Linked DNA regions of Homo sapiens: region 2 is linked to region 1. Evidence: fine-mapped expression QTL. A gene starts in region 1. The other region holds a variant in brackets. All regions are shown on one strand. Distances are between the middles of the regions.

The links.
Region 2: its variant is fine-mapped to the expression of KCNK13 in left ventricle (GTEx, PIP above 0.99). The same link has a PIP of 0.9 or more in atrial appendage and thyroid.

The regions. Positions count from the first base shown.
Region 1 is chr14:90,058,991-90,064,295 of GRCh38, forward strand. KCNK13 (potassium two pore domain channel subfamily K member 13) reads left to right here and starts at 3,004. Exons shown (of 2, transcript NM_022054.4): 1 at 3,004-3,549. The coding sequence starts at 3,216. LOC124903406 reads left to right here. Exons shown (of 3, transcript XM_047432048.1): 2 at 1,412-1,921; 3 at 2,372-2,743. The coding sequence ends at 2,636. RefSeq lists a silencer at 1,307-1,696 and enhancers at 1,945-2,446, 2,447-2,946.
Region 2 is chr14:90,088,784-90,094,155 of GRCh38, forward strand. The region is part of intron 1 of KCNK13 (potassium two pore domain channel subfamily K member 13); the gene reads left to right. Among named protein-coding and RNA genes, the nearest start is that of KCNK13, 29 kb to the left of the region's middle. RefSeq lists an enhancer at 639-1,139. The variant C/T (reference allele first, on the strand shown) is at 2,833.

The DNA of each region.
Region 1 (5,305 bases):
AGAAAATTCACAAGAGAAGGTACACAAGTGGCCAGCAAGCGCATTAGACATCAGGGAAATGCAAATTAAAACCACAGTGAGATATCGCTACATCCACCAGTATTTTTAGACATCAGGGAAATGCAAATTAAAACCACAGTGAGATATTGCTACATCCACCAGTAGTTTTAAAATTAAAATGACTGATACTGCCAAATGTTGACAAAGATACGGAGCATCCAGAACTAGTGTACACTGTCAGTACAGCTGCTTTGGGAAAATGTCGGGCAGTTTCTCATAAAGCAAAATACATACCTACCCTATGACCCAGCAATTCCGCTCCTAGGTCTTTACGTAAGAGATATGAAAACATATGTCTACATAGTTGTACAAGAATGTTCCTAACAGTTTTATTTATGATGACCAAAATTTTCTAACAGTTCTCCTTTCTATCAATAGGAGGAGAATGAATAAACAAACTATGGTATACCCAAACAATGAAAAACTAGCAATAAAGAGGAAGGAATTACTAAGACATATAACATGGGTAAATCTCAAAAACATAATGTTTTCCACCAAAGAGTACATACCGGCATGATTCCATTTATATGGAGATTTAGAACAAAAAAACAGTTCTATAAAAGCGAAAGTAATCGATGGTAGAAAAATTCTGAACAGTGGTTTTCTCTGGAGGAATGTGGGTAGGGAGTTACAGGGAAGGGACTTAGGGGGACCCTGTTGGTGATGTTTGGCTGGTAGGTTGGATAGGTGATTTGCAGAGGTGTACCCATTTGTCAGAACTCACCTAATGATACACTTAAGATTTGTGCATTTCATTGTATGTAAATTTTATCCGAAAAGGAAAAAAATTCTGCAAGTAAATATTGAACCCTACGTAGTGATATGCAGGCAGAAGTACTGGGGATGAGGGCGGAAGTGTACCAAGCTCTGCAACTTACTCTGAAATGCATCCAAACAAGATGGGTTGATGGATGGACAGAGGGACGGGTAGATATCTAATAAATCAAGTATAGTAACATGTTAATTGTAGAATCTAGGTGGTGGGTATACGGGTGTTCACTGTAAAATTCAACTTTTTAGAATGTTTGAAATTTTTCATAATAAAATGGATTTAAAAGGTAATTGCAGTACTCACCCTGGGTGTATACACATGCACCCATTCTCGCGATGCCCCTAAAGCTCTTGCCCCTCAGAAGGCTAGATGAAAGAGGGGCATTGGGGAGTGAGTAACAGAGCCGAGAGGACTGCTAACAGCACCAGGGTTTCTGATGAAAATGCACTCGCCAGAGCTGTGTTTCTTTATTCGAAATCACACGGTTTTACTCAACAGGGCTCCTAGCCCTTCTGTCTCTGCTCCTGGTGCGTAAGGGCGGTGTGTGGGGCTCTGCGCCTGAAACCGCTCTCTCGGAAGGTGGGAAGATGCCCACGTATCCATTCCTCTCCGCGTACAGATTCGCTCCCACACGCCCGGGCGGGTGATTCCGGAGGGCCGCGCGGGGCTGTGTGCGCGGGCGGGGGCGGGATGTGTCTGGAGGGGGCAGAGCGCCCTCTCCCGGCCCCGGAGGGCCCACGCGGACCGGCTGAGCGTCCCACCAGCCGGTTCTGCATCCACTACCCAGATCTGCGCGCCCTGGTGGGAGCACCGCAGCCCCGGGTCGGCCCTTCGAACGCCGAGCGTCTACCCGCGGAGACCAGCGCAGGAGGCGGGCCCGCGCGCAAGGAGGCGGGCGACAGGGTGGAGTCGCCGCAGCTGGCAGCCGCACGGCTCTACCTGTTGCAGCGTCGGAGCGCGCCCGCCTGAGAAGGCAGAGCGCGGTGCGGACCTGTGCTCCGCGCGCCGGCTGGCAGGGCAGGGCCGCGGCTGCCAGGAGGCCCGGGAACAGTCCCGACGGAGCGGCGCGGAGAGGGCGCTCCCCGGAAGGTGAGATCTGAGCGCGGCAGCGGCGCCAGCGCCCGCTACAAGGCGGGGTCTCGGGGAGGGGGCCCCGGCGGTTTGCTGGAGAGCCTTGCTACTGTTCTGCATGAGGTGGGGGATGCCTTCTGCGCGGACCCCGCGTCCAGGCAAAACTCTGGAACGCACTAGGCAGCCAAGCCCGGGGGGAAGAGATGGAACGCTCCAAGGTCAAGGTCTCCTGGCCGCGGAGCCCTTCCAGCCCCCAGTGTTTGGCCTCCTCTCCGGAAGCGGGGCTGGCTCGCGGTGCGCGCTTGGTCCGGGCGGAGCCTACTAGTAGGCGCAGAGGACGCCCCCGCGCAGGATCCAGAGACCAAGGGCGCTCTGGCATGGTCAAGGCGAGGGAGGCTGCCCGGGGGAGAAGCCCCTAACTTCCTTTGCTCCCTGTTCCAACCTCCCTTTCTGGTCTCCTCTCTCCAGCCCGTCCGCCCAACGGATGCGCAGCGTTGGGGCCCGGCCGGAGGTCGGAGCCCTCGGACGCCGCAGCCCTCGGACGCCGCTCAGCACAGCCCCTCTCTCCGTGCGCCCGCCCTGGACCCCCTCCATCCCTAAGCCCCGGCAGCCGATTCGGAGACTCGGGAGGCCACAGGCTCAGCGCGACACCACGACCACAACTAGGAGGCACCATCGTCGATCTACCTGGGGAGGCACCTACAAAGCCAGCAGACTGACACCCGTGTCCTAGCCGTCGGCGGCCTGCGAAGCGATAGTCAAAGGAACCAGGACCCAGGACCCCGGCGCTCTGCTTACCCGCAGACCTCCGGACCGCGCCCCCCCCCCGCCGCCCCGCCCCGCCCCGCCCCGCCCCGCGACCGTCTCTTTGCGGGAAACTCGAGTTGGCTCGAGCTTGCCCTGAAGACGCGCCACGCCCCCTCCCCTATCTGAGCCGGACAGGGAGCCGGGGTGGAAACTGCGCCCGCATCCCAGCGCCAAGCAGACGTGAACTCTGCGCCCGTTCCCCGGGACCTTCAGCGTTAAGGAGAACTCCGAGGAGAGCAGGGGGAGTGGAGGGGAACGGCGGCGACAAAGCGGATTTGAAACTAGGAGTCAAGGAGGACGTGGGGAGCTGGCGCCACAGGAGCTACCGAGGCGGCGGCCGGGGGAGCCTCGCGGCCTGCGGGAGAGCCCGGCGGTCATGGGCGAGCCGGCGGTGGGGCGCCCGGGAGCTGGCTGAGCGCCGGGGCCCTTATTTCCCGGGGGTGTGGGCGAGACTCCGCCGACGCCCGGTGCCGTGGGCCTGGGGGCTGCCCCCGGGGGCCCGGCCATGGCTGGCCGGGGTTTCAGCTGGGGCCCGGGCCACCTGAACGAGGACAACGCGCGCTTTCTGCTGCTGGCCGCGCTCATCGTGCTCTACCTGCTGGGCGGCGCCGCCGTCTTCTCCGCGCTGGAGCTGGCGCACGAGCGCCAGGCCAAGCAGCGCTGGGAGGAGCGCCTGGCCAACTTCAGCCGCGGCCACAACCTGAGCCGCGACGAGCTGCGCGGCTTCCTCCGCCACTACGAGGAGGCCACTCGGGCCGGCATCCGCGTGGACAACGTCCGCCCGCGCTGGGACTTCACCGGCGCCTTCTACTTCGTGGGCACCGTCGTTTCCACCATAGGTAAGTGTGCTGGCCGGACTCGCTGACAACCTCCGGGCGGCCTCCACTTCCTCCGGGGGGCAGGACCGACCCTCTCATCCTTTCATTCATCCATCTGGGCGCCCAGCCAGACTCCACTGACATGAGCTGTCGCCTGATCAACAGGTGGTATTGCCTCCCCGCTGCTCTAATGTGGTCCAGGCACCGGCAGCTTCAGCGTCACCTGGCAGCTTGTTAGAAATGCAGTCTCAGTCCCCTCTGCAGACCTGCCGAGTCAGAATCTGCATGTTAACAAAGTCCCCAAAGGATTGGAATGATCCTTAAATTGGAGACGCTCTGCTCTGGGAGATTTTCAGTCTAATGAAGGAGACACGGCTTGAGTTCATGGGGAAGAAGGCTTTTACAGATAGGGACAGGAAACTAAACATTTACTGAGTCAGTCAGAGGGGAAGTGCAGATTTTAAAAGATTCTGCCCTCGACTTCACACTTACCGAGAAAAAATCAGAACAGCAGACTGAAAGTGAGGAAGCAAAAGTGCCAATGACGGTTCAAAAGATGGAAAATTTTCCACCAGGAAGAACCAGGGAAGTGACCTTTGGGCTGAATCAATTCGTGTTAGGCATAACTTGGGTTTGGGAACTGAAAGCGCGGTTGCACTCTAGAGTAGGAGAGAATCGCACTCAGGGGCCCCATGAGCTGGTTGGAGTGGTGGAAGGAAGACTAGGAAGGTCTGCTGGCTAATGGGATGGAGGCGGGGGTAGGACCTTCACTGACAGACTGAGGAGCTGGAATTTACCTAGAGGCACCTGGGAGCCATTGAGAATTTTTTAGCAAAGATGTAGCACAGCTACAATCAGCTGTGTTTATTTCCCAGCAGAAGGAAAATGATTTGGGGGAGTCTGCGCCACACCCCTAAAGATTGTTCATCCTTGAAGAATAATCAAGTGATTAATGGGGGTTAGGGAAGATGCTGTAGAAATAAATTCTGAGGGGGGCAAAAAGAGACCTGGAGCAGGGGAGGGAGGTTGGAAGAGTTAGACGGAGAGGAAGTGGCCTCCAAGCTGCAAAAAAGGCTGGCAGTTGCAAACAGCCCAGGGTGCATGTGCTGAGCGCTCTGTAGCTACTGCCCCTGTGCACTCTAGAAGAGCTCGCTGGTGAGGTGGGGCGACAAGTTGAGCCTCCTTGAGGCTCCCACACATGGCTGTGCTACATAGACATTCTGCCAGGAGAAGCAGCACAAAAGACAAAAGAGATTGGCTTCAGGTCAGATTCATCATGAAAGACTTCCCAGGGCTAGTCCAGGAATCCAGGGCTTCAGCTGATGCACAGGAGGCGAGGCAGAGGACCAGTATGATTAGGGACACACCGGCTGTATCTGAAGTGCCTGGCTCCCAGCCCCCATCCCATCCCAGATGGTGCGGCCCATCAGCAGGCCATGATGGCACCACCATAACTGGGTATCAGGCAGGAAACCTTGCAGCAGACCAGAATGGGCCCAAGATTGGTGAAGGAGGAATAACACCCCCATGGTTCTCCCCCTGAGCCCACACTATCTGCTGGACTCTTAGCCGTGTTCCACAAGCCCCTCCTCACATCACCTCCCACGTCCCAGAAGACAGTTCCAGAATCTCCACATAGGCAAGACTTGGGATGAACAAACTGATTAGGAGGTGTCACTTTGGAAGTGACCTTGACTCTACTGTGTTTGCATAGCAAGTACAGGATTTTTTTAGATTGAATGGTAACTTAGGGTGGTTTTGATGGGAGATTTGATGG
Region 2 (5,372 bases), 30 kb after region 1:
GGGAGGTTATTGAATTATGGGGTTGAGTCTTTCCTGTGCTATTCTCATGATAGAGAATGAGTCTCATGAGATCTGATGGTTTCAGAAACAGGAGTTTCCCTGCATGAGCTCTCTTTGCTTGCCACCATCCATGTAAGACTTGACTTCTCCTCCTTGTCTTCTGCCATGATTGTAAGGCCCCCCAGCCATGTGGAACGTAAGTCCATTAAACCTTTTTTTCTTCCCAGTCTCGGATATGTCTTTATCAGCAGCATGAAAACAGACTAATAGAGTAAATTGATACCAGTAGAGTGGGGCATTGCTGAAAAGATACTTGAAAATGTGGAAACAACCTTGGAACTGGGTAACAGGCAGAGACTGGAACAGTTTGGAGGGCTCAGAAAAAGACAGGAAAATGTGGGAAAGTTTGGAACTTCCTAGAGACTTGTTGAATAGCTTGGACAAAAATGCTGATAGTGATATGAACGATAAGGTTCAGGCTGAGGTGGTCTCAGACAAAGATGAAGAACTTGTTGGGAACTGGAGCAAAGATGACTCTGGTTATGTTCAGCAAAGAGACTCAAGGCATTTTGCCCCTGCCCTAGAGATTTGTGAAACTTTGAACTTGAGAGAGATGATGTAGGGTGTTTGGCAAAAGAAATCTCTAAGCAGCAAGGCATTCAAGAGGTGCTATTGAAGGTGCTGTTAAAGGCATTCAGTTTTATAAGGGAAATAGAGCATAAAGTTTGGAAAATTTGCAGCCTGACAATATGATAGAAAAGAAAATCCCATCTTCCGAGGAGAAATTCAAGCTGGCTGCAGAAATTTGCATAAGTAACGAGGAGCCAAATGTTAATCCCGAAGACAATGGGGAAAATATCTCCAGGGCATGTCAGAGGTTTTCACAGTAGCCCCTCCCATCACAGGCCCGGAGGCCTAGGAAAATAATGGCTTTGTGGGCCAGGCCCAGGGTCCCCGTGCTGTGTGCAGTCTAGGGATTTGGTGTCCTGTGTCCCAGACAATCCAGCCATGACTAAAAGGGGCCAAGGTACAGCTCAGGCTGTGGCTTCAGAGGGTGCAAGCCCCAAGCCTTGGTAGCTTCCGTGTGGTGTTGAGCCTGCAGGTGCACAGAAGTCAAGAATTGAGGTTTGGGAACTTCTGCCTAGATTTCCGAGGATGGTGGAAATGCCTGGATGTCCAGGTGGAAGTTTGCTTGAAGGGGCGGGGCTCTCATGGAGAACCTCTGCTAGGGCAGTGTGGAAGTGTGGGGTTGTAGCCCCAACAAAGAGTCCCTACTGGGGGCCCCTACTGGGGCACCACATAGCAGAGCTGTAAGAAGAAAGCCACTATCCTCCAGACCCCAGAATGGTCAATCCACCGACCGCTTGCACCATGTGCCTGGAAAAGCCAGACAATACCAGCCATGAAAGCAGCCGGGAGGGAGGCTGTGTCCTGCAAAGCCACAGGGGCAGAGCTGCCCAAGACCATGGGAACCCACCTCTTGCATCAGCATGACCTGGATGTGAGACATGGAGTCAAAGGAGATAATTTTGGAGCTCTAAGATTGGACTGCCCTGCTGGATTTCAGACTTGCATGGGGCCTGTAACCCCTTTATTTTGGCCAGTTTCTCCCATTTGGAGTGGGTATACCCAATGCCTGAACCCCCATTGTATTTAGGAAGTAACTAACTTGCTTTTGATTTTACAGGCTTATAGGCAGAAGGGCCTTGCCTTGTCTCCAATGAGATGTTGGACTGTAGACTTTTGAGTTAATGCTGAAATGAGTTAAGATTCTGGGGGACTGTTGGCAAGGCATGATTGGTTTTGAAATGTGAGGACATGATATTTGAGAGGGGCCAGGGCAGAATGATATGGTTTGGCTGTGTCCCCACCCAAATCTCATCTCGAATTGTAACTCTCACAATTCCCACGTGTCATGAGAGGAACCCAGTGGGAGGTAATTGAATCATGGAGGTGGGTTTTCCCATGCTATTCTCGTGATAGTGAATGTGTCTCATGAGATCTGGTGGTTTTAAAAACAGGAGTTTCCCTTCACAAGCTCTCTTTGCCTGCCGCCATCCATGTAAGGCATGACTTGCTCCTCCTTGCCCTCTGCCATGACTGTGAGGCCTTCCCAGCCATGTGGAACTATAAGTCCATTAAACCTCTTTTTTGCCAGTCTCGGGTACCTTTATCAGCAGCATGAAAACAGAATAATACAGGGAGCTCAGTGCTTCTTCTGGTCCCACCTGCCTAGGCTGAGTGTCACCTGCCATTCATCTCTATGTTTGACCTCTTTCCTGTCCCTTGGCTCAAGTGCCGAGGTTCCTCTTGTCTCTGAGATATGTGAACCAAGTGATCTTATCACCTAGATTTTTAATCAGAATCTCAAGAAAGAGTTAGAGGGCCCCACATGATATTATTTTTTTAAATTGCATCCAGTTTGATCATGGAGCAGTCAAGGTTTTCCTGATGGGGTGCATGGAGATTTTATTCCATTCTTGTTGATTTCCCTCTGGGTGTCCCAATCAGTAGGCGCAAGAGCTTTTCCACTTAGGATATTTAATTAATGAGAATCGAACCGGTAAAGAATGAACTCTATGGCTGGCTAAAGGTTTTCCTATGGGAAATTAAGACCCACTAACTGGAAATGGTGAAAAGTGACAAGTTCAGAGGAAACTCAGTACAGTCATTAAAAATGTATCAAGTCCTATACAGTAGCCAGTTGACACAGCACAGTCAAAGAAAAATAGCATCTCTAAGGTCTTGTTGGATACCATCCATGTTGATTTTGGATAATGCCCAAAAGCCTGTTTCTGGGGGAAAGGCTGCTCTTAAACCTGGAATGCAGAA[C/T]ACTGGGCATGCCAAATGCCTCATTATTTATGAGTTCCATGCAGACAGTGATGCATGAAGGGTAAAAGACATGCCAATACCCTCTTCTCGGTGGGGTAGAGTGCTCCTGAAGATGATTTAGGAAGTGAGGTTTGAAACAGAGTCTATGGAGAGAGTCCTGGAGTTACCAGTGCTGGCAGGGGAGAAGGAGAAGACCATCAGAAAAGCAGTGGTAGCTATGTTAAGAATTGCATTATTATGTACTTACCTAAACGTTGGCAAGAATGCTGTTATTTAAGAATAAAATCAATTTCATTTTGGGAAAGAGAACTCCTTTTTTTTTTTTTTTTGAGACAGAGTCTCACTCTGTCCCCCAGGCTGGAGTGCAGCGATCTCAGCTCACTGCAGGCTCTGCCTCCCAGGTTCACGCCATTCTCCTGCCTCAGCCTCCCGAGTAGCTGGGACTACAGGTGCCCGCCACCACACCTGGCTAATTTTTTTTATTTTTTAGTAGAGATGGGGTTTCACCATGTTAGCCAGGATGGTCTCCATCTCCTGACCTCGTGATCTGCCCGCCTTGGCCTCCCAAATTGCTGGGATTATAGGCGTGAGCCACCGCACCCAGCCGGGAGCTCCATTCTTAAAGACACTTTTTGCAAACATTTACCTTGCAAAACATTTGTAGTGACTCCTCTGTGAACAACTCCATGTTGATTGGGAGGTAGAGAGAAACCCACTGCTAAACTACATCCATCTGTGCAGGTTTTTCTTTCTAATAATTGATATTCCATGAAAAGAGGAGAGGCTTTGTCATGGGGAAAATGTAGGTTATGAAACACAGATGCAGTAAGGGCACACTTAAAAAGAAAGAACAACACTGAGGTTTGCAGGCAAGACATAAGGAAACATGGAGGACAGAGGTCAAAGGGAGCATTTTGGAGGAGCAGGAAAGCCCTCTAGTGATTAAGAGGATGGATGGGATCAAAAGATACAGAAGACCAGCTTTTCAGAATTGAGTGTTTTCATTTCTCTGCCTTTAAAGAAACATCACAAGGCCAGGCTTGGTGGCTCATGCCTATAATCCCAACACTTTGGGAGGCCAAGGAGGGAGGAGTTTGAGACCAGCCTGGGCAACATAGCAAGATCCCATCTCTGCAAAAACTAAAAAATTAGCTGGGCCTGATGGTGCATGCCTGTAATCCCTCTACTCAGGAGGCTGAAGTGGGAGGTTTGCTTGAGCCCAGGAGGTCGAGGCTGCAGTGAGCCATGACCATGCCACTGCACTCTAGCCTGGATGACAGAGTGAGACCCTGTCTCCAAAAAAAAAAAAAAAAAAAAAAGCATCACGATACTCAGAAACAGGCGAGGGAGACTAAACACCCACCATTTCTTAGACCCTTAATTTGCGCTGGGTGCTAAGCTTCCTCTGGGTATGGGGTGGACACTCCAAATAGGGGCCCCAATTCCAGTAATTAAATGTGTTGAGCCAGGCACTGCACTAAGTGCTAGTGTAAGTGCATCATCTCATTGGATCCTCACAACAACACTCCATGCAAGATGAGGAAACTGAGACAGGAAATTTGCTCCTCACTGCACAGCCAGCAGAAAGAGAGGCAGATCCGCTTGGCTCCAGGGACCACGCTTCTTCTAGATGTCTGTGTCACCCTCAAAGCCTCAGATTGTATTGTGAACTAATTAACTAGTTGAGCAGAACGTTCCCCAAACACATGGTGTAGAATTGCTATTGTTCTCCCAGCATTGATGAAGAAAATTAACTCGCAGTAATATCAGTTGGAGATGGAGTCAGTCCCATTTCCACTTGATTTTATTCTTCCTTGATAGTTTTCTGAATAACAGCCTGTTACTATTGCCCTGATTTCTCTTTGCCACCTCTACATTTTAAGCAAATCTAGGGCAAGTCAGGAAGCAGGATGGATGCTTTTGATGCTGTATTCCGAGGCACCCCTGGTCCTCCCCAGCGTGCCCAGCCTAAATTAGATGAAGTGGAAATGTTGCAAAAGGGCTGAAGGGGCCCCCATGGAGAGCAGATGGTGGTTGGGGTTATTTGAGGTTTCCTGTGGAGATTCTCTGTCTCCCATTCACTTGCAGAGAACATTATGGGCTGTCTCAGTTCCATAGGGTGGCATCCCTCCCAGCCATCCTCCCAGAGCATTCTAAAGTTTCCTTGTTCATGGGTGGAGATTTATGTCAAATCCTCATTCCTGGAACTCTGGAATACAGTCTGAAGTCTTGATATTTGGATTGCCTTGAATGTGCTTATTCTGTAACTGAATAAGTGCCTAGCATTTGGTAATACTGATTTATTATATAATTGACTTGCCATATTGGGATTTGTTTTAATGGGATTTGCAGGGGGTGCCATTTTCCACCTCTGGCCTCTTTCTCTCATGACAGCAGATCTCTTCTGCTTGAGCTTTCACTCCATGGAGAAGGGTGAGACAGACATCTCTGAGGTCGTGCTGTCTGCATGGAACCAGGAGCTCCTTGTCTGTCTCTATCTCATTCCCCTGTGTGTGCCTGCACCTTGCACAAGGCTGGCA